Regions from separate parts of the Homo sapiens genome. Here region 1 is linked to region 2. Evidence: fine-mapped expression QTL. A gene starts in region 2. The other region holds a variant in brackets. All regions are shown on one strand. Distances are between the middles of the regions.

Evidence for each region. PIP is the estimated chance that this variant, and not a neighbour inherited with it, causes the effect.
Region 1: its variant is fine-mapped to the expression of BSDC1 in whole blood (TOPMed, PIP 0.95).

Annotation. Positions count from the first base shown.
Region 1 is chr1:32,358,209-32,373,827 of GRCh38, forward strand. TSSK3 (testis specific serine kinase 3) reads left to right here and starts at 4,331. Exons shown (of 2, transcript NM_052841.4): 1 at 4,331-4,638; 2 at 5,387-6,104. The coding sequence starts at 4,494. The coding sequence ends at 6,048. BSDC1 (BSD domain containing 1) reads right to left here. Exons shown (of 11, transcript NM_018045.8): 10 at 10,239-10,342; 11 at 6,425-8,446. The coding sequence ends at 8,414. FAM229A (family with sequence similarity 229 member A) reads right to left here and starts at 4,277. Exons shown (of 3, transcript NM_001167676.2): 1 at 3,750-4,277; 2 at 3,522-3,668; 3 at 3,062-3,327. The coding sequence starts at 3,883. The coding sequence ends at 3,225. It overlaps LOC124903933 (a long non-coding RNA gene), which reads left to right. Exons shown (of 3, transcript XR_007065642.1): 3 at 1-3,120. RefSeq lists silencers at 3,559-3,858, 4,009-4,208. The variant C/T (reference allele first, on the strand shown) is at 7,734.
Region 2 is chr1:32,387,798-32,403,416 of GRCh38, forward strand. BSDC1 (BSD domain containing 1) reads right to left here and starts at 6,644. Exons shown (of 11, transcript NM_018045.8): 1 at 6,607-6,644; 2 at 6,283-6,343. The coding sequence starts at 6,617. It also overlaps the pseudogene GAPDHP20. RefSeq lists enhancers at 5,685-6,382, 6,370-6,659, 6,383-7,078, 6,950-7,029, 7,777-8,472 and 1 more.

The DNA of each region.
Region 1 (15,619 bases), 30 kb before region 2:
CAACCCCTGGGGACAGTGTCTTTGGCTGTCTGGCTGTCTGCTGTCCCTTGAAGCCAAAGGTAGGAGCAGCAGCCGTAGCAGTCTCTCTTGCTTATCAAGTGGTAGCTTTGGCAGTGATTCCTGCATGGTGCTATACATACAGGTCCTTACTGAAACTTTCTACCAGGTGTCAATTAGCCCTACTTAACAGATTTGAAGATGGAGGCTCAGAGGGGCTAAGTAACTAGCTCAAGACTGCACAGTTAGAGAAACAGCAGAGTTAGGACTTGAACTCAGCACTAGTTTCGGCCAGTGGCTCTTCCAGTGGAAAGGAGTAAGAAGAAACAGAACAGGATGGAAGAGAAGAGAAATAGGAGAATGAAGTGACCCAGGTAGGAGCCTGTCGTGCTCTGCCTGCCTGCAGAACAAAGTTCAAACTCCTTCACCTGGTACGCAAAGGTCTCCTTGATCCAGCTTCTCTTCTGTTAACCCATTCCTGGATCCCCTGCATTCTATGCTCTGAAAGGGAAAATGATGTCAGATTCAGGGCTGGGTTCTCAGTACCAGGCATGGCCCAGGAAGGTGTTGATGAAAATTGATGAACTGAGTTTCTTGAAATTGTCCTTCACTTTCCTGCCTCCAGGCCTTTACCCACAATGCTTCCTCCCCAAAGGGAATGCCCTTTCTCTTGCTCATGGACATTCTAGAGCTAACTAGCCCCATTGGCAAGGACTGCGTCTAGAATCTTTGTATCCCTCACAAATCAGGTACGTGGGATGTGGCAGTAACTGGTTTCTAAATTTTTTTTTTTTTTTTGAGATGGAGTCTCACTCTGTCACCTAGGCTGGAGTGCAGTGGTGCGATCTCAGCTCACTGCAAGCTCCACCTCCTGGGTTCACACCATTCTCCTGCCTCAGCCTCCCGAGTAGCTGGGACTACAGGTTCCCGCCACCACGCCTGGCTAATTTTTTTGTATTTTTAGTAGAGACGGGGTTTCACCATGTTAGCCAGGATGGTCTTCATCTCCTGACCTCATGATCCACCTGCCTCGGCCTCCCAAAGTGCTGGGATTATAGGCGTGATCCATCATGCCCAGCCTAATTTTTTTTAGAGACAGGATCTCACTCTGTTGCTCAGGCTGGAGTGCAGTGGTGTGACCTTGGCTCATTGCAGCGTCAAACTCCTGGGCTCAAGCAATCTTCCTGCCTCAGGCTCCCCGGTAGCTAGGACTACAAGCACACGCCACCATACCTGGTTTTTTTGTTTTGTTTTGTTTTTAGAGATGGGATCTTGCTGTTTTCCATGCTGGTCTTGAACTCCTGGGCTCAAGTGATCCTCCTGCCTCAGCCTCCCAAAGTGCTGGGATTACAGGCCTGAGCCACCATGCCTGGCCTATTTTTTTTTTTTTTTTAAGGAAAGGAGGGTTGAGAAGAGAGGAGAAGGAAGTGGGAGAGATGGAAAAAAAGGAAGAATGAGAAGGATTCACTATTTGGGGGCTGGCAGAGTCCAAAGAGACCAGCTGATGCCTTTTTTTTTTAAACCAGTGAGGAAATAGGCCCTTTTAGTAAGCCTCCTACATGGGGACTGCCTGGGAGAGCATTTTATGTGGAAACTGAGAAGGGTATCCCTTTTGGGTGACGTGGAATTTTAAGGTGCTCTAGGGAAAGCTTGGACTTCTCTACCCTATGAGGATTAGAGGAGGGTGTTGAATCAATTGTCCTTAGATCTCAGGGGACAGGAGACTGAACCTGACCTTTAGGTTACACTCCCCCCGTAACAAAATTGGAAAGTAGAATATACGGGCTCATTAAAGCCAAATTGGAAAGTAGGAAATAGTTGTTTAGCTTAAATACTAGCACCTCCAGGCAGGCTTCCTGTCATGGGCCCCTCCGAGGGCAGATCTTAGGTCATGTGGTCTCAGGATGCTGAGGAGTGTGCTAGACTCTCATTGGGGGACCTTGGGTAAGTCTCAAAGGCTCAGTTCACTCATCTGTAAAATAGGAAGTTAAACCAACGTCTTTCTTTCTCTCTCTTTTTTTTTTTTTTTTGGATAGAGTCTTGCTCTGTTGCCCAGGCTGGAGTGCAGTGGCATGATCTCAGCTCACTGCAACCTCTGCCTCCTGGGTTCAAGGAATTCTCCTGCCTCAGCCTCCCGAGTGGCTGGGATTACAGGTGCGTACCACCACACCCAGCTAATTTTTGTATTTTTAGTAGAGACGGGGTTTCGCCATGTTGGCCAGGCTGGTCTCGAACTCCTGACCTTGTGATCCACCTGCCTCGGTCTCCCAAAGTGCTGGGATTACAGGCGTGAGCCACCGCGCCTGGCAAGCCACCATTTTTCAAATGGCCTCTTCCCCAATCTTTTTATGATCACTTCAGTCCTGGGAGAAACCAAGGCTCAGGATGGACTGGGGCAGCTCCAAACCCTTCCAATAAGGAAGGTCCCAGGCACCTAGGGCCACAAAGAGCAAGTCGCAGAACTTTGTCGCAGAACTTCTCGCTCGAGAGGATTAAAATGGGTCTGGTCGGGTGCCTGTAGTCCCAGCTACTTGGGAGGCTGAGGCAGGAGAATTGTTTGAACCTGGGAGGCAGAGGTTGCAGTGAACAGAGATCATGCCACTGCAGTCCAGCCTGGGAAACAGAGCGAGACTCCATCTCATAGATAGATAGATAGATAGATAGATAGATAGATAGATAGATAGATAGATGATAGATAGATAAGATAGATAGATAGCCTGGTGTGGGTGGCCTATGGCTGTATTCTATGTTACTTGTCGGTCCACCTCTTCCTCCTGTTCCCCGCTTCTGTGGGTTGCCAGGGTCCAGCACAGTGATGTGAATTTCACCGGAGAATCACCAGAGGGTTAGAGAGATGGACCAGGGCAGGGCCCAAGGGAAAGGCTGCCCAGGAGGGGTCAGGACCAGCAAGATACGAGAGGAGTGAAGTGGCGTAGGTTGAAAGGCGGAAGGGCGGGCCCCTAAGGCTGGGTCCAAACGAGGAGGCTGCGGAAGGGAAAGTGTTATTGGACTGGGCAGAGCAGCTGGTGGGCCCGACGGATAGACATACACTGCCAGCCCGGAGTGGAAAGAACAGTTTGTGCTGTGCTTTATTAAAATGTGCATCATTCTTTTATTTTAAAATGTGCATCATTGTCTCGTGCTCGGCGCATGCGACCTCAGCGTGGTGGCCCGCTGGGGGCCTCGTTCCCGCCCAGCTCCCGCGGAGCCGCAGGGAGCAGGCGCACTCACGTGGCGCGGGCCCGGGGGCTCCCGCCCATGGCGAGGTAGACGTCGATGGGCACGTGCAGCAGCGTCAGGCAGTGGCATCCAGGGCAGCGACGAAGCGGCCTGGGGAAATTGACGCGCGACAGGGGCCGCTGAGGCAGGGGCTTGGCCCATCCTGTGGGGCGCACCCAGGGAGTGCACCTGGGGTCCCCGGGGGTCCGGACGTGGATGCGGGGTCCTGACTGCTGGGGGCGCCAAGTGGGACGGAGGGCGGGGCCGCGGGACGGGCGGAGGCGGGGGTGGGGCGCGGGCCTTACCTGACCGGGTTGTGCTCCGTCGCTACCGCCTCCGGGCTGTCCTGGGACTCGGGGGCGGCGGCAAGGCCACGGGAGTCTCCGGCCTCAATGGGGAATCTCCGACCCTGCGGGGGCTCCTGGGCGCTCATGTCCAAGCCCCGGGGCGCTCTGCGCGGGGAGTGGCGGTCAGGCCTCTCCCGGGTCGCCGGGCGCCGCCGCCTCGCGCCCGCCCCCTGGGCCGTCGCTCACCTCCCGGCGGTTGAGACCGGTCCCAGGCTAGAAGCAGCTGCCGGAGCCCTGGCCGCGGGAGAACGCTCCGGTCCAGGCGGAGCCGGGCAGGTCTCTGTGGCGTGCCCGGGCCCGGGCGTCGAGGAGGGCAGCATTGTGACCCGGGCCGCGGCGCGCTGACCTCACAGAGCACGTTCCTCCCACTGGAGAACCCCCAACGGTGCCCCCTGCCGCCCCTGGCACTCAGCGCGGGCCAGAATCGGGGACTGGAGGCCTCTGGCCATGGCGCCTGGAGACGGGGTCGCGCAGACCCCGGACACCCGAGGGGGGCGCAGCAGGCCAGGGCAACCCGCCGCGAGGCGGCGTCCACGCCGAGGAGCCGCGCATTCCCGGTCCACACAGACGCGGCGGAGCGCCCTCCCAGGCGGGACTACAACTCAATGCCTGGCACGGGGGCGGGCTCGGCGGTGACTTAATCCGGGCTGAGTTTGGTGGTGGTAGTGAGGGCAGGTAGGGGCACTGCCCATTTTGGCCAAGGGTCACACAGCATCTACATCACAATTGCACCGGAGTTTAAAAATGTCTGGCCCTGTCCCTCCCCACCACCCGCCGCTGTGTCCAGACAGAGAATGTTCTAACGCTGGGGGCGGCTGCGGATGAAGTCCTTGGGGAGAAAAGGAGCAGGCCAAGGGCGATGGTGGAGTAGAGCTGCCTCTCAGAGGCAGCATGAGCTGAGAGGGTGATAGGAAGGCGGCGCTAGACAGCATGGAGGACTTTCTGCTCTCCAATGGGTACCAGCTGGGCAAGACCATTGGGGAAGGGACCTACTCAAAAGTCAAAGAAGCATTTTCCAAAAAACACCAAAGAAAAGTGGCAATTAAAGTTATAGACAAGATGGGAGGGCCAGAAGGTGAGCCGGGGCCCCTTTGGAGGGAAGGAGGGAGGACTGGCTGAGGTGGGTGGGTGCTTCCTCCTGTTTGTTAGAACGATCATTCGATCATTCCCTGCTCCCGCTGGCCTGGAACCAAGCAAGCCCGATGGCAGCTCTGGAGTGGGTCAGTGGGGAACAGAGGGGTTCTGGGAGTCCAGGAACATTACACCCCCCCAGAATGCAAGATGAAAGTGGCATGAGGTGAAGGATCCTCAGAGGCAAAACCTGAGCCAGGCTTTCCTTTCCGGCAGGGGAACAGAGACTGGCAGAGGCCACAACCAGGGCTGGTAGAGAACAGGGGCTGGTGCCAAGGCCCGTGGAGATGGGAAAAAGGAAGACAGGGCTCATGGAAAGAATTGTGGGGTCAGGGGACAGTGGCGGGAGGAGCTGGCTCACCACCCTGTGGACAAATCAGGCCTTATAATTTGTGATTCTGTGGCTTTGTCTAAAAGTCCCTAAAGCACCTTGATATCCAGTCTCACAGACTGCTCACAACAGTCCACAAGGCTGGTGGGGAGTGCTTCTTTTGAATGATATACTAACGACAAAAATAATAGAAGTGAACATTCTTTGCAATGTCCAAGCAGCTAGACACACTTAAGACCATTAAGAAAGCCAAGAAATAAGACCCAGACAAGGTGGGCAGAAGTTGGAAGGCAGGAGACAGGTGTGAGGAGGTGGGCCTTTCTGATCTGCCAGCCCATCTCTCCTCCCCTTACTTCCTCAGAGTTTATCCAGAGATTCCTCCCTCGGGAGCTCCAAATCGTCCGTACCCTGGACCACAAGAACATCATCCAGGTGTATGAGATGCTGGAGTCTGCCGACGGGAAAATCTGCCTGGTGATGGAGCTCGCTGAGGGAGGGGATGTCTTTGACTGCGTGCTGAATGGGGGGCCACTGCCTGAAAGCCGGGCCAAGGCCCTCTTCCGTCAGATGGTTGAGGCCATCCGCTACTGCCATGGCTGTGGTGTGGCCCACCGGGACCTCAAATGTGAGAACGCCTTGTTGCAGGGCTTCAACCTGAAGCTGACTGACTTTGGCTTTGCCAAGGTGTTGCCCAAGTCACACCGGGAGCTGAGCCAGACCTTCTGCGGCAGTACAGCCTATGCTGCCCCCGAGGTGCTGCAGGGCATTCCCCACGATAGCAAAAAAGGTGATGTCTGGAGCATGGGTGTGGTCCTGTATGTCATGCTCTGTGCCAGCCTACCTTTTGACGACACAGACATCCCCAAGATGCTGTGGCAGCAGCAGAAGGGGGTGTCCTTCCCCACTCATCTGAGCATCTCGGCCGATTGCCAGGACCTGCTCAAGAGGCTCCTGGAACCCGATATGATCCTCCGGCCTTCAATTGAAGAAGTTAGTTGGCATCCATGGCTAGCAAGCACTTGATAAAAGCAATGGCAAGTGCTCTCCAATAAAGTAGGGGGAGAAAGCAAACCCAAAAACCCGCTTCTAAAATGGTGATATATATTTTACGCTTTAAGTTTACTTATCCTAAAACTTACCTACATCTACCCCAGCCTTACTACTACTCTTTCCTTTTAGAGATCTTCATGGAATCAAAGGGCCTCATTCAGACTTCCTTTTTTTTTTTTAAGAGTCTTGCTCTGTCGCCCAGGCTGGAATGCAGTGGCACGATTCCAGTTCACTGCAACTCTGCTTCCCAGGTTCAAGCGATTCTCCTGCCTCAGCCTCCCCAGTAGCTGGGATTACAGGCACCTCCCACCACGCCTGGCTATTTCTGTATTTTTAGTAGAGATGGGGTTTCACCATGTTGGCCAGGCTGGTCTGGAACTCCTGACCTTAGTGATCCACCCACCTTGGCCTCCCAAAATGTTGGGATTACAGGCATGAGCCACTGCGCCTGGCATGACAAGTGATTTTCATACTAAAGTTAATTAAAATAGACCCAAGAATCATATACAAACAGGGGGAAGAGAGGATAAAAATGACCAAGAGCAACTGAAGCCATTCTTGTTGCAACTTCCTTTCCAAAGGAAAGCAGAGGCACTGGGAGTGCAGAGATGGCCTCCCGACTCCTTGTCCCAGTGAGAGGCCTGTTGCGAGCCCTGACCCTTTCTCATCCCAAAGGCAAAGCTGAATCTGGGATGAGGACAAGGTACGTCCTCTGGACCTAGGCTATCCCCCTACCCTGTCTCTGGCTCCAAGTGGGAAGCCAGTCCTGCCCTGGCCCAGTGCAGCTGCCAAGGGGACAAAAACAGACCCCCAGACACCTTTCAGCTTCGGGTGAATCACTTTAATGCTGTTAACGGCAAGTCTGTAAAAGGTTCAGGACAAAGTTCTTTTTTCTTTCTTTTTTAATTATAAAACTAACAGCTGTTAGAATCTTTTTTTCTTTTTTTCCTTTTTTCTTTTCCCAGCTACAAAATACTCTGGGGAGATGCATTATAATTTAAAATATATAATATTGCACAAACAACCAAAAGGTTAATTAAACTAAAGAAATAATTACAAAGAGAAAAACCCCATCCCGTCAAAAAAAAGATTCAGCATTCTCTCCATCCCACCCCCTCACTGAAGGTTTGAAGTGGAAGTGACCTCACTCTCTCGGTGTCCCTGACCCACGATCCCTTTCACTCATTGGTGAGCACACCAGATTAGGTACAAGAATCACCAGAGCAGCATCGTGAAGCACCAGGCTCTCCAGAGATTCCTGCAGCCCCTCATTCCCCCAGAGGTGCAGCTTTACCAGAGTGGAGGGTGAGAGCACAAAGGCTGGGTCTGTCTTCAGGAAGAAGAGCTTTTGCAGAAGCCTGATGAGAGTTTCAAGTTCACCCCCAGGATAGCCCTTCCAGAAGCAGAAGGGCTGAGGCGGAGAAGCTAGGCTTACCAGAGTTGTAAGTACTCGGCTTTGATCACCGCTCTGTACCGCTGGTAGCTGTTTTGTGTCCTAAACTACAGGGGAGTTGAGGTGGGTAGCTGGTTGGACAAGGTATCCTGCCAGGCAACACACAGAAGGGCCTGAAGTAGCCCCCTCCCTTCTTGGGGAGGGGAAGAAACGCAAGAGCGAACTCCTGCAGGTGGCACAGCTGGGCTAAGGACTTGGGTGCATC[C/T]GACATGAAGAAGCCCTGGGAAGGCATGGGGACAGACCAGCGTGGGCTGGAGGAAAGGAAGGAGGTGGGTCAGGGTTTGGTCTCTGGATTCTGAACCCCAAAGGAGCCTTTCCAGGAATGGAAAATGCCTGGGAGGGGGAGAGTCCCAAGAGAGGCAAATTTCCCAGAGATAAGTGCCTCTTACCCACTGGGATAGGAACCAAAATGTGTTCACTGTCCCTGTTTAGCCAAGGGTAGGTGGCATGGCCCTCCCTGCCTGCTTATGTATGGACAGAGTATGTTGTCTCAGCTTCCTCCGAGAGAGACTGGTGGTTTAGCTTCTGTCTACACAGGCAGAAGGGCTAGAACTATCCCTTGGGACTTCCCAGCAGGAGTCCTCAGGAACAGTGGGTGTTCAGCAGAAAAACACAGGCTCTTCTGGTGAGGAGGATAGGTTTCCTCTCCCTTGGGTCATCCTATTGTTGGCACAAGTCAGAGTTTCTGGCCGGGATTTAGAGAGCCCCTTCCCAGGTGTGAGCAGAGGCCCAAGAGGGCCAGCAGGGAGCCACCAGAATCTGTGCCCAGAGCTCTGGTTGGCAGAGGAGATTTGGGGGAACATTCTCAGTCTTCCAGGGCTGGGCTGAGACGAGCGAGGGAGGCGAGAGATGCCATGGGTGGGGGAGCTGCTCCCTCTGGCTCCCTCACTCCCAGTCCTCCCACTCTACATCTTCCAGCTGCAAATGGGAGGGGGTAATGGAAATCACAAACACATAGTTACTCCTGAGTCAGGCCCAGACCTAACCTCCACTTGCTGAGCAGAGCCACCTCCCATCCCCTACCCCAGGCCATACTCTGAGGTCCCACTGAGAGTGAACCCCTAGTCTTAAGGAATGTGTCTGAGGGGCAGAGCTGCCCTCTGCCTGAGGGGTGGGCCTGATGCTCTGATTACCTCAGACCTAAAGGAAACACTTCCCCCAACCAACACCAGACACCACAAGGTGATGGCTGCCTACAGGAACCAAGTCAGCCTCAGTCCTTTAAGGAGAACTTGCCTCCTGCTGAGCAGATAATGCCATGGCTCTGAGAAGCAGAGAACTCAGGAGGCCTGAGCAGATACTTGGCCCTGGACACAAAAGACCAGTGTAATCAAGGGCAAGTTACTTAGTCTTTGGGTGAATGGAGGCCACTGCCTGAGTGGCACTGTGGCCAAAAGCAGAGGTGGCAGTGGCCTACAGATGCCCACTAGGTCTTCACTAGGGGCACCAACACCCTAATTCCCAGCTCAAGTCTCCCCACGGAACGTTTTCTTGCTTTGTTCCTACTCTTGGCCTGCTGTCGGCTAAGCCCTGGTATAGCAGGTTCTAGAATGCTCACGTGTACTGCACGTCAGGTTTTAAAGGGGGCTGCAAAGACACAAAAAGCCAGCAAGCCCCTGTGGCCTGACAGGGCACTATGGGCTTTCTCTGTCCTGGGTATAGTGAGGTAGTCACAAGTGCAAAATACTCCTGAGTAGGTAAAATACTCCCCCAAGGCTTCAGTTTCCCATCATGAAAAAGGAGGCCCTTCACATGTCTCTCTAATCTGTCCACCTCTTTCTAACAGGCTCATAAGTTACATGATGGAAGGACTCATGTGGTTCTTATGTGACAGTGGAACTAACGCTGACATGAATCAGATGTCTGGGTTGCAGCCTCAGTCCTGTCACTTATTAGCTGGGAGAGCTTTGGACTGTTCCAGCCTCTCAATCTAAATGAGCCACTTTTGATTCTGAGAGGTAGTGAAGAATAACAGTACTAAGGCCTCCTTGAGCTTAATAACTGGAATGGGTTTTGTGGGGTTTATCACTAATGTCTCCTGAGTGCTGGTCACCATGTCTCAGGCAATAGCCCTAAGGTGTCTACATGGATCACCTCATTACAGCTTATAGCCAGGTCTTATAATGATCAATTCCATGTTTTAGATGAGGAACCAGGGGCTCAGGTTAAGTAACTTGCCCTTGCCCTTGATCACACTGGTCTTTTGTCTCCAAGGCCAAGTATATACTCAGGCCTCATACCTGAGGACCACAACTCAGAAGGTCAGGCAGGGTTTGATGTCTGTTTTCTTTTTTCCTTTTTTTTTTTTTTTCAAAAACAGAAATGGGGTCTCACTATATTGGCCAGGCTGGTCTTGAACTCCTCGCCTCAAGCAATCCTCCCACCTTGGCCTCCCAAAGTGTTGGGATTACAGGTGTGAGCCACCGCGCTCAGCATGACATCTGTTTTCTTAAGCAGTTTCTCAGGCAATTTTGATACAGAGCTAAGGTCAAGAACTTGACCCTCTATCCACCCTGGAACTGAGGAAAAGTGCAGCCTGCTGATGACCAATGTTGTGGGTCTGAGCAGGAAGCTCCAGCTCCTTTCCCACCACCTGTCACCTCAGACAGGAGCAGGGACCCTCCTGAGGGGACAGCTGGGCTGGCTGGGGAGAGCTCTCACACCCAGGACCATTAGGCTCGCTTCCCTCTGACCCACCAGGCCCACTCACCTCCCCGGAGGCATCCACTTTGGAAAGTGCCATCTGCACCTCCTCTTCAGTCATGTCCAAGTCAAAGTCTTTCTCCCAGTCCTCACTGATGTCCGTGCTTGAGCCTGGAACCACGAGCCACAGTGTGAAAAGCAGGAGGAGGCAGGGAAGGGGCACCTGAAGAGGGTGTAGCTGGGGAGATAGCATGCTTCAAAAGGGTCTCACAAATACACAAGTCTTTACATTTTGTGTTCACTCTGGCGCACCAATCGTACTTTTTTTTTTTGTTTTCTTAGATGGAGTCTTGCTGTCACCCAGGCTGGAGTGCAGTGGTGTGATCCCGGCCCACTGCAACCTCTGCTTCCCAGGTTCAAGCGATTCTCCTGCCTCAGCCTCCCAAGTAGCTGGGACTACAGGCGCACGCCCCACACACCTGGCTAATTTTTGTATTTTTAGTAGAGACGGGGTTTCACCATGTTGGCCAGGCTGGTTTCAAACTCCTGACCTCAATGATCTGGCCACCTCGGCCTCCCAAGGTGCTGGGATTATAGGTGTGAGCCACCGCACCTGGCCCCCACTTTTAAGAATCTATTCTAAGGAAAAATCTTGGATTCAGTCAGAAATTTAGCAAAGAGTGTTCACTGCAGTGCTGTCATAGTGATGGAAACCTAGAAACAATCTGAAAGCCCACTGACAGGGAATTAGACAAGTAAACAGTGAGTTACATGGTGGAACACTGTAGGCTGTTAGAGGTTAGGCTGGAGAAGAACTTCACATCCATGCCAAACAGCCTTAAACTATTACCTCGGAAAAGGCAGGTTACTAAAGAGCGGAGAAGCACTTTGGCCCAGAGGCTCCAAGAGAGTCACAGAAATCTTCCAGAGGAAATCAACAGTGAACTGAGACCTTGTCTCTAGAAAAAAATTTAAAAATTAGCCAGGCATGGTAGTACACACCTAAGGAGTCCCAGCTACTCAGGAGGCTGAGGTGTGGTGATCACTTGAGCCCAGGAGTTCAAGGCTGCAGTGAGCTATGATCATGCCACTGCAGTCCAGCCTGTTGACAGTGCAAAACCCTGTCTCTAAAGAAAACAAAAACCTCCCCTCGGACCCCCAAACAGTAGACCTCTTCTTCCTCACTCCATTCTGCCCACACTAATCTTGTTCCTCCAGAAACATACCAGGCGCATTCCCAACTTAGGGCTTTTGCATGGGCTGTTCCCTGCACCTGGAACTCGTATCCTCAGATATCTACAAGACCAACTTTTCACCTCCTTCATGCCATTGCTCAAATCGTACCTTCTAGATGTGGCCTACACTGACCATCCTAGTTTAAAGAGCAACCCATCATCACCCTCACTCTGCTCTAGTTGTTCTTTTTTTTCTGAGACAGAGTCTCGCTCTGTCACCCAGGCTGGAGTGCAGTGGCACGATCTCAGCTCCCTGCAACCTCCGCCTCCTGGGTTCAAGAGATTCTCTTGCCTCAGCCTCCTGAGTAGCTGGGATTACAGGCACCTGCCTGGTACCACATCCAGCTAATTTTTGTATTTTTACTTATTTATTTATTTTTTGAGACGGAGTCTCGCTCTGTTGCCCAGGCTGGAGTGCAGTGGCGCGATCCTAGCTCACTGCAACCTCTGCCTCGCAGGTTCAAGTGATTCTCCTGCCTCAGCCTCCTGAGTAGCTGAGATTACAGGGGCATGCCACCATGCCTGGATAATTTTTGTATTTTTAGTAGAAACGGGGTTTCACTATGTTGGCCAGGCTGGTCTCAAACTCCTGACCTTAGGTGATCCGCCTGCTTTGACCTCCCAAAGTACTGGGATTATAGGCGTGAGCCACTGCGCCTGGCTCTGGATTGTTCTTTTTCCCATTGTAGTGATCACTTTCTAACATATTACATAATCAGACTTAATATGTTTATTGTATATTAATAGAGGAGTTAGAATATAAGCCCTGTGAGTGCCAGGATCTTTTGTTTTGTTCTCTTATGTATTTCAAGTTTTTAGAACACATAGTTGGCACTCAATAGTCACAGACCCTTTCTGTAAACCAGGGGTTGGCAAACTATGGCCCAGGGATCAAATCTAGCCATGTCGCCGGGCGTGGTGGCTCACGCTTGTAATCCCAGCACTTTGGGAGGCCGAGACAGGTGGATCACGAGGTCAGAAGATCGAGACCACCCTGGCTAATGTGGTGAAACCCCATCTCTACTAAAAATACAAAAAATTAGCTGGGGGTGGTGGCAAGCGCCTGTTAGTCCCAGCTACTCGGGAGGCTGAGGCAGAAGAATCGCTTGAACCCGGGAGGCAGAGCTTGCAGTGAGCCAAGATCCCGCCATTGCACTCCAGCCTGGGTGACAGAGTGAGACTCCGTCTCAAAAAAAAAAAAAAAAAAAAAAAAAAAAATTCTAGCCATGTCACATCATTTGTTTACATACTGTCTATGGCTGCTTTCATGCTGCAAGAGCGGAGATGAGTAATTTTGACTGCATGGCCCAAAAAGCCTAAAATATTTATGGTCTGGTCCTATACAGAAAAAGCTTACCACCCTCTGCTCTAGATGATTCTGATGCCTGTCTGTACTATTTGATGATCATTGCTCTAAACATTCATATTTGGCTATGACTTCTTACAGGTAATATTAAAAAGATATATATAAAAGTTATTACTAAGAAGTAAACTACACAAATAGTTCCTTTCAATAAAGCATGTACAGTAAGATTCCAGCTTTAAAATGTGCCCATAGATGCATGCACACATGCAGAAGAGATGAGCAAGATATCCAAATACACTAGCAAAGTTATCTCTAGGTGATGAGTTCATGAGGTGATTTTCCTTAATTTTTTTCCTAAAATGAACACATACGACTTTGTAATCTTTTTTTTTTTTTTTTTTTTTTTATTTGAGATGGAGTCTCACTCTCGCCCAGGCTGGAGTGCAGTGGCACAATCTCGGCTCACTGCAAGCTCTGCCTCCTGGGTTCACACCATTCTCCTGCCTCAGCCTCCTGAGTAGCTGGGACTACAGGCGCCCGCCACCACGCCCGGCTAATTTTTTATATTTTTAGTAGAGATGGGGTTTCACCGTGTTAGCCAGGATGGTCTCGATCTCCTGACCTCGTGATCTGCCCGCCTCGGCTTCCCAAAGTGCTGAGATTACAAGCGTGAGCCACCGCACCCAGCCTGTAGTCTTTTTTTTTAAGTACCTTTAAAAAGAGTGGGTCCCTGATCCTCCAACGGCATGACCAGTAAACATCTCCGTTTCTTCTTCTCCGACCTACTCCTCACCAGATGCCTCCGCGCTGAGACCTACCCCTCAGCCCCGCTCCCACATTCCTTCTATGGTATCCTGCATCATCCTCTCTTCTAGCCAGAGCATGGTCTCTGGGGCCAGGCAGACCTGGGTTGAATACCTACTCCTTTACTGTGTAGTCTTGGGCAAATTATTGTTGGCTTCAGTCTATTTATAAAATATGGATAAAAGCAACCTCTGCAAAGAACCACTGGAGAAGCGTATTAAAATACAGACTCCTACCCTGCCCACCCCCAGTCCCAACTAAGACTCAGCAGGTCTAGCTGGTGGCTGGGAAGGCTGCATTATAAGCAGGTACCTGTGTGTTCTGTGTAGACCTGGCCCTGCCGTTTGAGAAACAATGGTGTTAGAATTAGAGGTATGAATGTAAAGTGCCTATTACATACATACACATGGCTATGTAATGAATGGTGCTGCCTTTCTTCTAAGGGCCTTGTCTCAGAGTTATGTCATTCTGTACACGGTACCTCAGGAAGTCAGGGCAGCCAAGACCCAGCTCTTCTGACTCTGCACCTACATCCCTCTGTGCCTTCAGGACACTTAGGTGACATTCATCTGGCTGTCACCACAGGCTTCCTGTGGGTTAGCCAGACTCTTCGCTGCTTCCTCACTTCAGGGCTTTGGTTGTGGCCATGACAGCTTTCCCTAACCTCAGGTTGCCCTCTAGGGACTTGAAACTGTCTCTTCAGGCTTAAATGCTATGGCAGAACCTTTCAGGGGTAGAGAACAGAGTATCCACTAACATTTCTGGAATATTCCACATCTAGCTCTTGGGTGGGTATTAACAGTCCCAGTATACGGATGAGGAAATGAAGGCTTCAGGTGGTGCAGGGAGCTGTGAAGCTGGGTTCTCTCTGCCATCTGCCTCCTTCCACCGTCCTACCCTGTCACACAAGGAGAGCACTAAGATCTCCATTACAATGTGCATGTGGCAGAGAGGTGGCCTATGCTACAATTTAAGACTTCAGAATGGAGTTCTACTGGTTTGGTTTTGAAAATGGAAGTTTTCGGGTGATTGCTAACTTTGTAGTGCTGTCACTCACAGCTCATTTTATTCTGTTTAATCGGCTCTCTGCTTCCCCAGTTAAGAAATAGAGGCAAAACTGCTCTTAGGTCACACGGTCATGAAGTGAGGTCTTAACCTCCAGGCTCCTTCCAGGCCACAGGCCTGCCCCAATCTCTCCTCCCCTTCTCTGCAGAAAGAAGTCCAGTCTCTCAGAACAGACGAATGCTGTGACAAAACATAGGTGGAAAGCAGCTCTGCGATGACAGGGATCACCCTGGGAACCAGTAAAACCCTTTGGCTAGGGTACCCCAAGAGACTCTGCTATACCCAGAGACCAAGCCTTATGTCACCCTAGGACTTGGGCCCAACAGGAAAAAGGAGTCACTTTGTCTCCAAGCCCCCATTCTTCTTTTTATTTCTTCTACTCTGTTCCCACTGTTCCAGCCTAGTCCAAGACTCTGGCTTCCTCCCACCTGACTACGGTTGTTTCTTGTGAGTCTTCTATAGCACATCCTCAGCCTCTCCTTTCACAGGCCCTGAGGGCAGCAGAGGCAGCATAGCAGAGTAGTTAAGAGCTTATGTTTACCTCTCCTGTAATTTCAATTCCATCCAGTCTCCAACCACTACTGATTTTTTCTGATCACCCTTTGTAGCCCAATTCCAAATGAAACCTATAATTTGTAACCCTCCAACTGTTTCACTATCCCTCATTCTCTCCCGTACTCAGCTCAGATTCCATGAGGCATCATTCTTATCACTTCTTGCATATACTTTCTTTTCTTTCCTATTTTTTTGAGACAGGGTCTCAGCTCTGTCACCCAGGCTGGAGGGCAGTGCAGCAATCTCAACTCACTGCAGCCTCAACCTCCCCACTCAGGTGATCCTCCCACCTCAGCCTCCCGAGTAGCTGGGACTACAGGCACGTGCCACCACATCTGGCTAATTTTTTGTATTTTCTGTAGAGATGGGGTTTCATCACAATGCCAGGGCTGGTCTTAAACTCCTGGGCTCAAGCGATCCACCTGCCTCAGCCTCCCTTAAGTACTGCAATTATAGGTGTGAGCCACTGTGCCCAGCGGACTT
Region 2 (15,619 bases):
GCTATTTTATGAGTAATTCTTAACAATTTAATATCAGTAAAAAGGCATGTGATTTTTTACATTCAACAAAGGAGGAAGCGGTCAAGAGAAAGACTAGATCAGATTCTCTTGGAGGCCTTCTTGGTTCTACCATCCCGAGGTTCTATTCATATACAAAGCTCCTTTGGGCAGAATGCATATTTGCTCCTGCTAAACCAATCTGTTTCTCAGCCTGCACCCAGACCTCACTTGAGAAAGCAGACCCTCAGCTCACTTCTAGGTCTTGCCCTGTCTTGCTTCAGACTCACCAACTCTAGGATGCTTCCTGGAGTATCTCAGTGGCCACTCCCCCTGCAAGCCCTTTCATCTTACACGGGGATAATCACCTGCATTTTTTAAAGCATGTTTTTGAGCGCTCCTGTGGTTTGTTCTTCTGGGAAGGGCCTGCCCACTTTTCATTAGCTTGGGAAGTTTCTGAATGGCACAGTCTATCAGCTACAGGCTTCTCTAGGGGTGGTAATCATGCCTCCATATCAACTCAGGACTCCTTAATTGGGGGTGGAGGAGGTCATTTACTTATTTACTTTTATTAAAATTTTAAAAAATATTTCACAGCACCATGAAATTGTGCCCTGGGTCATTTACCGATTCACTCTTTCTATCCACACTGCCACCATCTTAGTCCAGGCCAACTTATTCTTTCACCTGGATTCCTCCCAGGTTGTCTCAGCCACCTTTACTTCATTCTCCTTATGACACCCAGTGGGTGCTTTGTCTGTCAGGGCAGACCGTGCTGCTTTACACTCTTTAAGTTTACACACTATCCTAAGAGCAAATTGAAAATCCACCTTTACTTACAAAGCCTATATAACTTGGCCTCTGGCAGACTGGTATCCCCTACCACTGTGCCGTTCACTGAGCTCCAGCTGGCCTTCCTCAAGTTTCTAAAATGCCCTAGCATCTGTCCTGCCTCAGAGTATCTGAACACATTGTTTCCTCTCCCTGATACAGAGTTCTAACTCTTCAAAAAAACCAAGTCTGTAAACACGATGAAGGAACCCTCTTATCTGGAAAACTCCTGTTCATCCTCAACGTCTATGCTTCATTTCCCTAGAGGGGCTTCCTGCTGCCTCTTCAGGCTCAGCTGGCTCTCCCTGCTTTATCTCTTCTTCTTTTTTTTCTTTTTTTTTTTTTTTGAGATGGAGTTTCGCTCTGTTACCCAGGCTGGAGTGCAGTGGCGCGATCTCTGCTCACTGCAACCTCTGCCTCCCGGGTTCATGCCATTCTCCTGCCTCAGCCTCCCGAGTAGCTGGGACTACAGGCGCCCGCCACCAAGCCCAGCTAATTTTTTGTATTTTTAGTAGAGACGGGATTTCACTGTGTTAGCCAGGATGGTCTCGATCTCCTGACCTCATGATTCGCCCACCTTGGCCTCCCAATTTATCTCTTTTCTAACACTGAACATAGTTTAGACTTCAGATGACCTGTTCAATGTCTGTCTTCCTGGATAAACTGTGAGTTGTGTGAACACAGGTCCTATGTGTTTTGTTCCCTGATGGTTCCCCAGTATCTGACACAGAGCATACAGTAGGTACTCAAAAAATGTTTGCTTGTTAAATTTACATGGACCATTGAAATTTCAATTATGTAACCACTTGTGTGACTAAACAGTTGTCTTCCCGCTAGACTGTGAGCTCTGAGCAGACAAACATGAACATACGTTGCCCTCAAGCAGGTCACAGTCTACTGGGGAAAATGGTCCCATGATAGTGCTGATGTGCAAGGGCAGAGCAGTAGCTGCTGTACTATGGGGAGGTTGGGAAGATGTGGTGACCAGAAGCCTGGAATGGGCCCTTAAAGAATGAACAGGAGTTGGTTAAGAAGTATTGATGTGGGCCAGGTGCAGTGGCTGATGCCTGTAATCCCAGCACTTTGGGAAGCCGAGGCAGGAGGATTGCTTGAGCCCAGGAATTTGAGACCAGTTTGGACACTATGGCAAAACCGTCTCCACACACACACACACACACACACACACAAATACAAAAAATTAGCCAGAAGTGGTGGTACACGCCTATAGTCCCAGCTACCCAGGAGGCTGAGGTGGGAGAATCACCTGAGCCTGGGTGGTTGAGGCTGCAGTGGGCTGTGATCATGCCACTGCACTCCAGTCTGGGTAACAGAGTGAGACCCTGTCTCAAAAAAAAAAAAAAAAAAGAACAGGAGTCAGCTAAGAAGTGTTGACATGGGTTTAGTGACGTCTACAAGCATTACAGTCCTGATGGACATAAAATGTGAAGCAAGAGTGGTGAGGGATAAAGCTGGAGAGGTTGCCAAGGGCAACCAGGGAGAGCCTGGTCAGCCCTATGGATGATGGGGAGCCACCAAAGGTTTGAAGTGGGTGGGACATGAGATTTGCCTTTTCACTAAATTACTCCAGTGACTGGAATGGAGGAAAGGTCCAGAGGCGAGAAGATTAGAAGAGGAAGAAGGAAGACCAGTCAGGAGGCTGCTGCAATAATCCAGGAAAGAAAATAGAAAAATGTGAGTAAGGACAATGCTAGTAAAGATGGAGAGGATGAGACTGGTTCAAGATACAGGAGATGGAAGAAGGTGGATTTGGTGACTGAACAGGTATGTTGACTGAGGGCTAGAAAAGAATCATGGAAGCACCACAGGCTGCTAAAATAGGTGACTGCGTAGATGCAGTACTGCCAGCTAAGTGAGAAAATCCTGGAGGAGGAGCAGTCCTAGAGACAAGGTGGTAACAATGACTTTGGGCACGCAGAACTTGAGATGACTGTGGGCTGTCTAGGATAGCTGTCCAGCAATAGCTATCCTCAAACACTAAAGCTGGCCGGGCATGGTGGCTCATGCCTGTAGTCCCAGCACTTTGGGAGACCAAGGTGGGCAGACTGCTTGAGCCTAGGGGTTTGAGACCAGCCTGGGCAACATGGCGAGATCTCATCTCTACAAAAAATACAAAAATTAGTTGGGCGTGATGGTACACGCCTATAGTCCCAGCTACTTGGGGGCCTGAGGTGGGAGGATTGCTTGAATCCAGGAAGTGGAGGTTGCAGAGAACCATGTTTGCATCACTGCACTTCAGCTTGGGTGACAAAGTGAGAGCCCATCTCAAAACAAAGCAAAACACAACACTAAAGTTCAGGCAAAAGGTCTAAGAGTCGCCCTAACAGGAAAGTGGAGAAGGTGACCCAGGAAGAGTTTGGAAAGTGGACAGAGCAATGGGCTGAGGACAAGTGTCCTCAGACACTACCTGTAGGGGGCAAGCAGAGGAAGAGGAACTCATGAGACAGTTACAAAAGCAACGTCTGGAGAAGTATGTGGAGACTTAAGAATCATGTCACAAATGCCAAGAGAGTAGCGTTTCAAGAGAGGGAGTGATCACTAGCGTCAAATGCAGCAGAATGGTCCAGGAAGATAAGGGCTGAAAACCACCCACTGGATTTGGCAAGCAGTAGGTAAAGCTGACTGAGTAAAGATAAGTTTATAGGTGGTGGCTTTGAGGGTGGGGAGAGAGTTAAAGATCCTGTTTGTTCACCTGAAGTTTCAAAAAGTAGATGAGGTTGTCTCCTGGAAGTGAAAGGGATAAAGCGGCTGAATAGGGGACCCCAGGGAAGAGTTAGGTTTTGGGAAAGTTTCTGAAGTTAAGGGGAGGAGAAGCAAATTGGAGACTGAAGAGTATGTGGGCCCAGATGAGGTTGGGGAATCTGTGATGGAACCAAAAAGCATTTGGTGCCTTTCTCTTTTTAATTTCTTCTTTCTGGTAAGTATGTAGAGCAATGATATGCCTTTCTCTATCAACGTGTATGCACACGTATTTGTGTCAGTCATATTGCCCTTGACAACACACAGGAAGACAGGACAGGAGGAGGTAAGGAGCAGAGGAAAGCAGATGATAGCACCATCTCATAGCTGTGGTCTTCAGGGCAATGTGTTCTAAGGAGTGCTGAGAAGTGAGTGGTCCAGATGGAGCCAGAATGGGACATACAGATAGGAAAGCACCAAAAGACCAAGAAAAAAAATGGAAGGAAAAACGAACTGGGGGTGGTATCTAAGAGGTTTTCCCATCAGCCTCAGCACTTAATAACAGCTAATGCTTATATAGCACTTACTGTATGCTAGGTACTGTTCTTAGTGTTTTACATATATTAACATTTAACCATCACCACAATCTCATCAAGTAGGTATTGTTAGTATTCCCATTTTATAGATGAGGAACTGAGGCCTAGAGAGGTTAAAAACTTGCCCAAGAGGCCAGGCGTGGTGGCTCACACCTGTAATCCTAGCACTTTGGGAGGCCGAGGCAGGCGGATCACCTGAGGTCAGGAGTTTGAGACCAGCCTGGCCAACATGGTGAAACCCTGTCTCTATTGAAAATAGAAAAATTAGCTGGGCGTGGTGGCACATGCCTGTAATCCCAGCTACTCAGGAGGCCGAGGCAGGAGAATCACTTGAACTCAGGAGGCGGAAGTTGCAGAGCTGAGACTGAGCCACTGCACTCCAGCCTGGTAACAGAGCCAGACTTGGTCTCAAAAACAAACAAACAAAAAACAAAAAACACTTGCCCAAGTACATATAAGAGTAAGAAAGTAAAAAAAGGGAAATTACGTCTTTTCTTTCCAAAAAGGCATAAACAACTCCCACCTCCACCCCCACCCCAGCTTTTAACTGGGAATTCCAAGAATGAAGACGGAAGGTTGGCCAACTATCTATTTTTCATAAGTTATGATAAGACCAACCTTGAGACAAACACAGGAGGCCCTCATGCAACATCTGCTGAATGAATGTCAGACTTTCCTGCCAGGAAATTACCCAACAGGAAATATGCTACTATCGGGTCTCTTCTATCAAATGTTAGGGTGCAAGCCTCTCAGTCCTCATCAACAACATAAACAGCTCAGGGCATTCTCAGATTTGCTGGGCTATTGCTGAGAGGCTGTCCAGGAGTACCCAGGATAAGGGAGGAATAAAAACGCTCCCAGATGTCTGGGTGTGGTGGCTCACGCCTATAATCCCAGCACTTTGGGAAGCTGAGGCAGGTGGCTCACCTGAGGTGAGGAGTTCGAGACCAGTCTGGCCAACATGGTGAAACCCTGTCTCTACTAAAAATACAAAAATTAGCCAGGAGTAGTGGCACATGCCTGTAATCCCAGCTACTCGGGAGGCTGAGGCACAAGAATCACTTCAATCTGGGAGGCAGAGGTTGCAGCGAGCTGAGACCGCACCTGTGCACTCCAGCCTAGGTGACAGAGTGAGACTCTGTCTCAAAACAAAACAAAAATACTCCCAGAGTAGAGGACTTATTTAGGTGAGGTCAGAAGCTTCCTGGAGTTGGCCCTGAAGCAGGACTCATCCCAATTGCTTGAGGTAAATAGTAATCAACTTTTCCCACAATTCAGTTGGGCTGATTTTGACAAATAAGCATGAAATGAAACAGGAATACACATTGGCAAATTACCCACTGGCACAGCCAAATATCACTCATCCCACAGAGATTGTTCAGCAAGAAGGCCTTCCACTCTCTGGTGATTAATCTCTCTCTCTCTACTGCCCGTTGCATAGCCCCTACTTAGAACTCATCAGGCACCAGTGTGTATGGCTCATGCTCATCTCTGGCTTGGGTTCTTGCTTTTCATCCTGTCTAGGCAGGGTTGCCCTTGATGAGGTTCCTTCTCCACAGGGGCCTTCCCTGGTGAGTTACTGACTAACCAGAACAGACAAGGTGCCCCTGTACTTTCCTTTCACAGAACTTACCACAACGGTAACTAAACAACTATTTGTTTGGCTACTCGGTTAATGGCTGTCTCTCCACTAGACTGTGAGCTTTGTAAGGCCCAGGATTACATCTGTTTGGCTGAAGTCTGTATCCTCAAGACCTATCAGAGTGCTGGTTGTCGCATATACTCTAATATTTGAATGACTATACGAGTAAGTTTTTTTACTGCTAGAATCTTTTCCTTCAAGACCTGTATCAAATGCTCTCTCTTTCACGAAGAAACTGAATTTCCTGAGCTGGAATAAATTGCTCCTTCCTATGGATTCCTACAAAACGTTCGTTAACTCCAGCCTTTAAAACCATCTTTATTTCACTGTGGCTAGTATCACACTGGTTTGCGTCGAGGTCTGTCTTCCCGTGGACCGGTAGAGGCTAAAAGAAAGGCCCAGGTCAGCCTCATCCTTGAGACTTAGCGCCCGCAAAAGTTGGGCGGGGCTGGTTGGACCAGGTTGCATTGAGGCGGCGCAGGGCCCTGCTGAGGGAAGAAGGGCACGGGCCCGGCTTACCTTCTCTTTGACTGCTTGGTAGCTCTGCTGCAGCCAGCTCCGCCACCATCCCACGTCCTCCCTGTGGAAGACAGACACATCTGGCAGCACCGCGGTGCGATTCCTGCCCGCCCAAGGATCCGGTTTGTTCCCCGCTCAGATGTACCCTGCGGGCCGAGGCTTCGCAGACCGCTTGCCCACCCCCTCACAATGCGACTCCACTCTGCCCTTTCAGATCAGTCCACGCCCCCGCTGATCTCACGTTCCCCACCGGGACTCTCGCCCAGCACCCCAACCCTGGGAGAATTCAGGCCCCAACGCCTAGGAGCAAAACGACAAGCTCACCCTTCCGCCATCTTGCCTGCATGACATCACCACTATTTACTGACCTTTGACTTCCGACACGGCACCGCCCCCTCAAGGACCGCCCCCGAGGCGCTCGGCCCAATCCTCGCGCCGGCACCGCCCTCAGCCCAATCCCCTCCCTGCGCCATCATTAGGTCCCGCCTCCCTGAACTCTATCCAGTCTCTGTCCCGAGTTCGCCCTCAAACTCCGCCCCTGAACTCTCAGTTCAATCGTCATTCAGTCCTGTCCTCAGGCTCCACCAAGCTTGACTCTTTGTCACTGTCCGCAAACGTCGGGTACGGTGGCCTCTATGGACGATGATCAGCCGACAAGCTGGACTGCGGAGAGCTGGGAGCAGAGGGGAGGAGGAGAGATAGCTCGAACGTCAGGATCCCAGAGCGCAGGGTTAGGACCGCCCCCCTTTGTGAAACCAGCTGCGTAGAGGCTGCTTTGTGTCTCTTTGGGCTAATTCAATAAGCCCATATTGCGGGGCTGTGGCCCAGAGTTTGGAGGAATGTGAATAATTCAGAGGCGACTTAGATGCAGCCTTTGGAGGGCTTACGGGTTAATGGGAGACACACACATTCAGTAATCTCAACTTTCGGTGGCCCAGCTCAGAACAACGCCAGGTGGAGGTGGTCTGGAGAAATCCGGAGACCGCCTGGATTGAGTTCTACTGCGATTGGAAGGGAGATTCCACAGCCCACATACTTTGGACTTTAATTAAGGTCAGCCCCTCCACGTGTGCGGTAGATCCCATCGCCTCTTGTTTGCTTAAGGACATAGATCTAGTAATCCCCCCTTCATCTCTTTTCCCTCTGATGACTGCATTTATCCTTGTCATCATCCGTACTGCTGTTTCTCCCATCTCAAAGGCAAACAAAAACCAGCCCTCTCTATATCCCTCACCGTTTCCCTACTCCCCTTTACAGCAAAAGCGTTGCCTACTCACAGTCTGCAACTCCCCTCTCCTCCCATTCTCTCTTGAACTCACTGCAGTTAGGTTTTTGCCTCTCAGACAATCCTTTGAAATAACTTTCTTTTATTTATTTAATTTTATTTAATTTTATTTATTTTATATTTATTTGTAGCTCTGCTGCAGCCAGCTCCGCCACCATCCCACGTCCTCCCTGTGGAAGACGGACACATCTATTTTATTTATTTATTTATTTTTGGTCCTCCCTGTGGAAGACGGAAACATCTATTTTATTTATTTATTTATTTTGAGTCAGAGTCTTGCTCTGTTGCCCGGGCTGGAGTGTAGTGGTGCAATCTCAGCTCGCTGCAACCTCTGCCTCCCGGGTTCAAGCGATTCTCCTGCCTCAGCCTCCCGAGTATCTGGGATTACAGTTGTGCACCACCATGCCCGACTAATTTTTGTATGTTTAGTAGAGATGGGGTTTCACTATGTTGGCCAGGCTTGTCTCGAACTCCTGACTTCAGGTGATCTGCCCTCCTCAGCCTCCCAAAGTGCTGGGATTACAGGCATGAACCACTGCACCCAGCCTGACATAACTTTCTTAAGGTCGCCAAGAGGAATGGCCACTTTTCAGTTCTTGTTTTACATCCGCATCTTATTTGACACAGTTGACCACTTTCTTCATTTGGCTTCCAGGACATCATGCCCTCTTGACTTTCTTCCCCGTTCATTGGCATCTCAGTATTCTTTGCTGTTTTCTCACCGCCTTCTTGTTGCTGGAATGGGATATTCCCTGGGAGAAGGCTCAGCCCTTGGTGTCCTCCTCCTTTTTGATGTTTATAGTCATTCCCCAGATATTCTCATAAAGTCTCATGATTTTATTTATTATTATTTTTTAAGATGGAGTCTCACTCTATTGCCCAGGCTGGAGTGCAGTGGCATGATCTTGGCTCACTGCAACCTCTGCCTCCTGGGTTCAAATGACTCTCCTGCCTCAGCGTCCAGAATAGCTGGGATTACAGGCACCCACCACCACACCCAGCTAATTTTGTATTTTTAGTAGAGATGGGGTTTCACCATGTTGGCCGGGCTGGTCTTGAACTCCTGGCCTCAGGTGATCCACCCACCTCGGCCTCTGAAAGTGCTGGGAGTACAGGCGTGAGCCACTGCTCCTGGCCCATTTTATTTTATTTTTAAGACAGGATCTTACTCTGTCGCCATATTAGTCCATTTTCACACTGCTAATAAAGACATACCTGAGACTGGGCAATTTACAAAAGAAAGAGTTTTACTGGACTCACAGTTCCACATGGCCAGGGAGACCTCACAATGATGGAGGAAGGTGAAAGGCACATCTCACATGGTGGCAGACAAGAGAAGAGAGCTTGTGCAGGGAAACTCCCGATTTTAAAACCATCAGATCTCATGAGAACCATTCACTATTATGAGAAAAGCACGGGAAAAACCCGCCCCCACCATGATTCAGTCATCTCTCACCAGGTCCCTTCTACAACACGTGGGAATTATGGAGCTACAAGATGAGATTTGGGTGGGAACACAGAGCCAAACCATATCAGTTGCCCAGGCTGGAGTGCAGTGGCACGATCATGGCTCACTGCAGCCTTGACTTCCTGAACTCAAGCAATCCTCCTGCCTCAGTCTCCTGAGTAGCTGGGACTACAGGCATGCACCATCAAGCCCAGCTATTATTATTTTTTTAAATAGAGATGAGGTCTCCCTGTGTTGCCTTACTTTTAATTTTTCTTTAGCAGTGCTTCACTATGTTGCCCAGGCTGGTCTCAAACTCCTGGCCTCTAGTGATCCACCCACCTTGGCTTCCCAAAGTGCTGAGATTACAGGTGTGAGCCATCTCACTAATCTCATACTTTTAAATGCCATGTATATGCTGATGGCTCTCAAATTTCCTCTCCAACCCATACATTTTCTCTGAACATCAGGTTCATTTTGTCTATTTGCATGTGTAATAGGTGTATTATTTTTAACATGTCCCAAAACAAACTCTTGATTTATCCACCTCATCTTCCTGCAAACTTTCCCACATTTGTAAATGGAACCTCATTATTCCAGTTGCTCGAGCCAAAAACCTAGGAGTCATCCTTGCTTTCTCACTTTCTTTCATACTCCCAAACTAATCCCATCAGCAAATCCAGTTGGCTCTGCCTTTCAAACAAAACCAGAATCTAGTGACTTCTCACCACCTCCACTGTTATTATGTAGATACAAGCTACCATAATCAATCTCATGGTTAATTACAAGAGCCTCTTAACAAATATTTCTGCATCCACTCTTGCCTTCCTTAAGTCTAGTCTTCATTTGCCTGAAAGTAATCTTTTAAAAGACATACGTCACTGGGAATGCAACTGGTATGGAATACAATATGCCATTTCCTCAAAAAAATTAAACAGAATTACCATATGATCCAGCACTTCCACTTCTGAGTATATACCCAAAAGAATAGAAGGCAAGTACTCAAACAGATATTTGGTGGTTTTTTGTTTGTTTGCTTGTTTGTTTTGAGATGGAGTTTTGCTCTTGTCACCCAGGCTGGAGTGCAATGGCACGATCCCAGCTCACTGCAACCTCTGCCTCCCGGGTTCAAGCAGTTCTCCTGCCTTAGCCTCCCTAGTAGCTGAAACTACAGGCGCATGCCACCACGCCCAGCTAATTTTTTTTTTTTTGAGACAGAGTTTCTTTCTCGTCACCCAAGCTGGAGTGACAAGCAATCTTGGCTCACTGCAACCTCCACCTCCCAGGTTCAAGCGATTCTCCTGCCTCAGCCTCCCAAGTAGCTGGGATTACAGGTGCCCACCACCATGCTCTGCTAATTTTTGTATTTTTAGTGGAGACAGGTTTTCACCATGTTAGTCAGGCTGGTCTTGAACTCCTGACCTTGGGCGATCCACCCACCTCGTCCTCCCAAAGTGCCAGGATTACAGGTATGAGCCACCATACCCAGCCCTGGCTAATTTTTTGAGGTTGAGGCTGCAGTGAGCTGTGACCATGCCACTACATTACTGCCTGTGCAATGGAGAGACCTTGTCTTTAAAACAAAGAAAAACATGTGTGTGTGTGTGTGTATATATATATATATGTATATGTATATACATGCCAGATTACAGCCTTCCTCTGCCCAAAGTTCTGCAATGTCCTCTTATTTCACTCAGAGAAAAAGCCAATAAGTCCTCACAGTCTCCTTTAAGGCCCCGTATAGTTGATCTGACCTCACATTACTGGCCCCCTTAGTCACTCTGCTCCAGACACATTGGCTACTTTGATATTCCCTGAAAATTCCCGGGACTCTCCTGACTTGGGGCCTTTCAACTTGCTGTTCCTTTTGTTTAGACTGCACTTACCTCCAGATATTTATGTGCTTCTAACTTTCACCTCATTCAGATCTTTACTTGAATATAATCTTCTTACTCACCCTGACCACATTATTTAAAATCACAAGTTGCATAACAAGCACCCCCATTTCTCTTCTCTGACATATTGTATATTATACTTTGTTTAAAAAATTGTTTGCCTCCTTCAGACTAGAAATGCAACCTCAATGAAGGCAGGATTTTTGTCTGTCTTGTTCACTTGTCTACGGCTAGCACCTACAACAGTGTTTGGTACATAATAGACACTCAATATTTGTTCAGTGAATGAAAGAATAAATGCAAGGAGAGTGAGGACAAAGACAGGACTAATTTAGAGCAATCTGGAATAGCTAAAAAGAAAAAGGAAAAGAGAGGATGGACGTGAGGCTGTAAAGGTCATTAACATCTCGATTCTTGAGAGCCTTGAATGCAGGACTTAAAATTCATGGACAGAGGAGAGTCACCAAAGGTTTGGAATAAGGAAATGATTTGTGTTGTGAAGATGATGTGATCAAATGATTGAATGCTACTGTTAACAGATCTAACGGTGCCATTGGGGTGAGCACTTTATACAGTGTACCTTCCCAAAAGCTCAATGAGGTGGGAACTATTTTTAATCTACATTTTATAAATGAAGAAGGTGACCAGGCACGGTGACTCATGTAATCCCAGCATTTTGGGAGGCTGAGATGGAAGGATTGCTTGAGCCCAGAAGTTTGAGACCAGTATGGGCAACATAATGGCACCCTATCTCTATTATTATTATTATTATTTTGAGACAGTTTCACTGTGTCGCCCAGGCTGGAGTGCGGTGGTGCAATCTTGGCTTACTGCGACCTCAGCCTCCCAGGTTCAAGCGATTCTCCTGCCTCAACCTCCTGAGTAGCTGGGATTACAGGCGTGCACCACCACACCCAGCTAATTTTTGTATTTTTAGTAGAGACAGGGTTTCGCCATGTTGGCCTGGCTGGTCTTGAACTGCTGACCTCAGGTGATCCGCCTGCCTCAGCCTCCCAAAGTGCTGGGATTACAGGCATGAGCCACTGTGCCCGGCCTCTATTATTTTTTTTTAAATAAAAGTGAAAAAGCTAAGATTCTGAGATATGGGGTGACTTTCTCAAGGTAACACAGCTAGGAAATGGCAGAACTCGGATTTGAACCCAAGGCTGTCTAATAAAATCAAGCTTCTGTGCATTTCATGCTAGTCTTAACTTCTTCCAACCTTATGTCCTGCCTCCCCACCCAGATGATAGCTGCAGGCATCCTGTCCTTCGTTATCTTCACCTTGTCTCATTCCTCACCCCCAGGCCCAGCAGAGTGCTCGCCCATGATGTCCCTAGTGACTGTGGATTCAGTGGGACCCTTTGCTTGGGTTTCTTTGGTCTTCCTTATCTGTTCACCCCAGTACCTTGACCGTTGGCTCCTTTCACTGCCATAACCTCTGGCATCAAACATATTCATCCTTTTTTTTTTTTTTTTTTTGAGGCAGGTCTCACTCTGTCACCCCAGCTGGACTGCACTAGCATGATCATGGCTCACTGCAGCCTCAGCCTTCTAGGCTCAAGTGATCCTCCTGCCTCAGCCTCCTGAGTAGCTGGGACCACAGGCATGTGCCACCATGCCTAATTTAATTTTTTTTTTTTTTGTAGAGATGGAGTCTTGCTATGTTGCCTAGGCTGGTCTACGAACCCCTAGGATCTAGCGATCCACCTGCTTTGGCTTTCCAAAGTATTGGGATTACAGGCATAAACCACTGTGCCCGGCCAATGTCTTCATCCTTAACATTGGGATACTAATTCTGGTTGTTGTAATGACTAAAGAAAATAAATAAAACACCTAGCACATTGCAAGGCATAAAGTCCTCATGTAGGGATTATGATTGTCTTACCTCCTTACCCCTGTCCTCAGAGCCTCATACAATGCTAGGCGCTGGTAGAGGGCTAATGGACATCTGTTGAGTTAAACAGTATGTTGAAAGAACACTGGTTTGGGAGTCAGCAGAGCTAGATTTTAATACTGGTTTATGGGCAGTTGTCACTTTTTCTCTCTGAAATTCAGTTTTTTCACTGTCCTTGGGGCCTCTACAGTCTCCTGCAGCTCTTAGGCAAAGTATGAATGCAGGTAAATCCCACACCCTCAGACCCTCCTTTGACTCAAATCCCCCCTCTGACACTGCTGGACCCCTTTTGGCAGATGATTTTTTTCCTACTCCCCCTACCCACCCCATTAGAATTGGCAGGTGATTCTTATCCCAGGATCCTGGCTTTTGCTCCCAAGGAGCCCTGACACCCAGGTGCCACCAGATGGTGCTGTGGACTCATTCTTCACGGGAAGCTGGCTCCCGGGCTCCCCGGCTCCCTATCTCCCCGGCTCCTAGGAGAGGCCTTCTGGCTCCTCTGGACAGGGTGGGGTTCCTCCGTGGAAGGCTGCTAGGCCTGGGATAATCCTGGGAGGTGACTCAAGCCTTTCAGAAATTTCCAAGGCCCAAGCCCGCCCTCGGTTTGGCGTGCAGATTCCAGCATAGAGTTGGCAGGAGGACTGGCTGCGTAATTTGTAGAACCCAGTGTAAGACCAAAATGCCTAAGTTACTGATGCAGGCAGCACAGGGAATGCCTAAAAGCCCATGGACTGGTTCTAGTTCAGCCCTCTAGAGCTGATTGTTAACATTTCAGGAATTTTGGCCGGGTGTGGTGGCTCACGCCTGTAGTCTCAGCTACCTGGGAGGCTGAGGCAGCAGAATCACTTCAGCCTGAGAGGCAGAGGTTGCAGTGAGCAGGGATCGAGCCACTGCACTCCACCCTGGGTGACAGAGGGAGACCCTGTCTCAAAAAAAAAAAAAAAGAAAGAAAAAGAAAAAAAGGAATTTTAAAAGCTGGTTGTTGAACACGGACATTATTTAATTAAATTTTATAAACTTACCATTAAATAAGTTATAGAGCTGGGTGTGGTGGCTCACACCTATAATCGCAACTTTTCAGGCGGCTGAAGCAGGATGATCGCTTGAGCCCAGGAGTTCAAGGTTACAGCGAGGTATGATTACACTATTGTACTCCAGCCTGGGTGACAGAGCAAGAGCTCATTTCTAAAAAATAAATAAATAAAATAAAAACAAAGGTAATAAATAACCCAAACTCATCACTATGTAATTACTTTTATATATTTCACTATCATTTATGCTCACTTTACTTTTTTTGGCTGGGTACAGGGGACTTTATTGATGGTACATGACAAAGTGCGGTCTCATAGTCCCCTCCCATTCTTCAGGGAGCCTGGCATGGAAACAGTGTTCAGGAGGGGGAGATTCTCAGTGTGGTGGGGGACTGAGTTTGGCAGGGACTCCCCAGCAGCTGAGGGCCTCTCTTCTTCTCGTGCTGTCACTGGGGCTGGTGGTTCAGAGGGCCCTTACTCCTAGGAGGCCATGTAGACCATAAGGTATATCGTTCTGTTGCTGTAGCCAAATTCATTGTCATATCAGGAAATGAGCTTGACAAAGTGGTCTTTGAGGGCAATGCCATTCCCAGCATTGAAGGTGGAAAAGGTGGGTGTCTCTGTTAAAGTTGGAGGAGGCAACCTGGTGCTCTGTGTAGCTCAGGAGGCCCTTGAGGGTGGCCTCCGATGCCAGTTTCACCACCTTCTTGATGTCATCATATTTGGGCAGCTCTCTCCAGATGGCAGATCAGGTCTACAACCCACATGTTGGCAGTGGAGACATGGAAGGCCATGCCAGTGGGCTTTCTGTTAAGCTCAGGGATGGCCTTGCCCACAGCCTTGGTAGAGTGGGTAAATGCAGGGATGATGTCCTGGAGAGTCCTGTGGCCATCACGCCACAGTTTCCCAGAGAGGCCATCCACAGTCTTCTGGGTGGCAATATTGGCACCAACTGTGGCCATGAGTCCCTCCATGATGCCAAAGTTGTCATGGATGACCTTGGGCAGGGCAGCTAAACAATTGGCAGTACAGGAAGCGTTGCTGACAATCACAAGGTTGTTTTCATACTTCTCAAGGTTCACGGCCATCACAAACATGGGGGCATCAACAGAGAGAGCAGATATGACCCTTTTGGTTGCACCCTCTAAGTGAGCCCCAGCCTTCTCCAAGGCAGTGAAGATGCCAGTGGACTTCATAACATAATCAGCGTCAGGACCAGCCCATTTGATTTTGATGGGATTTTGTTCCTGGAAGATGGTGATGGGATTTCCATTGGTGACAAACTTCTTGTTCTTAGCCTTGATGGTGCCTTGGAACTTGTCATGGGTGGAGTCATACTAGAACATGTAGACCATGGAGTTGACCTGAATGAAGTGGTCATAGATGGTGACACTATCCACTTTGCTAGAGTTAAAAGCAGCCCTGGTAAACAGGCTTCCAATATGGTCCCATCTATTTACTCTGGCCTTCACTCACACCATGATGTCTCAAGGCTGCTGCTGGTGCTACACGAGATGTGTCTGTATGTTGTATGGCAAGAGCAGAGAGCTCATCTGTGTTCTTGAAGTAACTTACATTTATTGTATCTATATGGTGGAAATACTATATAATAGTGTACTTTTTTTTTTTTTTGAGACGGAGTTTCACTTTTGTTGCCCAGGCTGGAGGGCAGTGGCACTATCTCGGTTCACTGCAACCTCTGCCTCCCGGGTTCAAGCGATTCTTTTGCCTCCCCCTCCCGAGTAGCTGGGGTTACAGGTGCATGCCACCATGCCTGGCTAA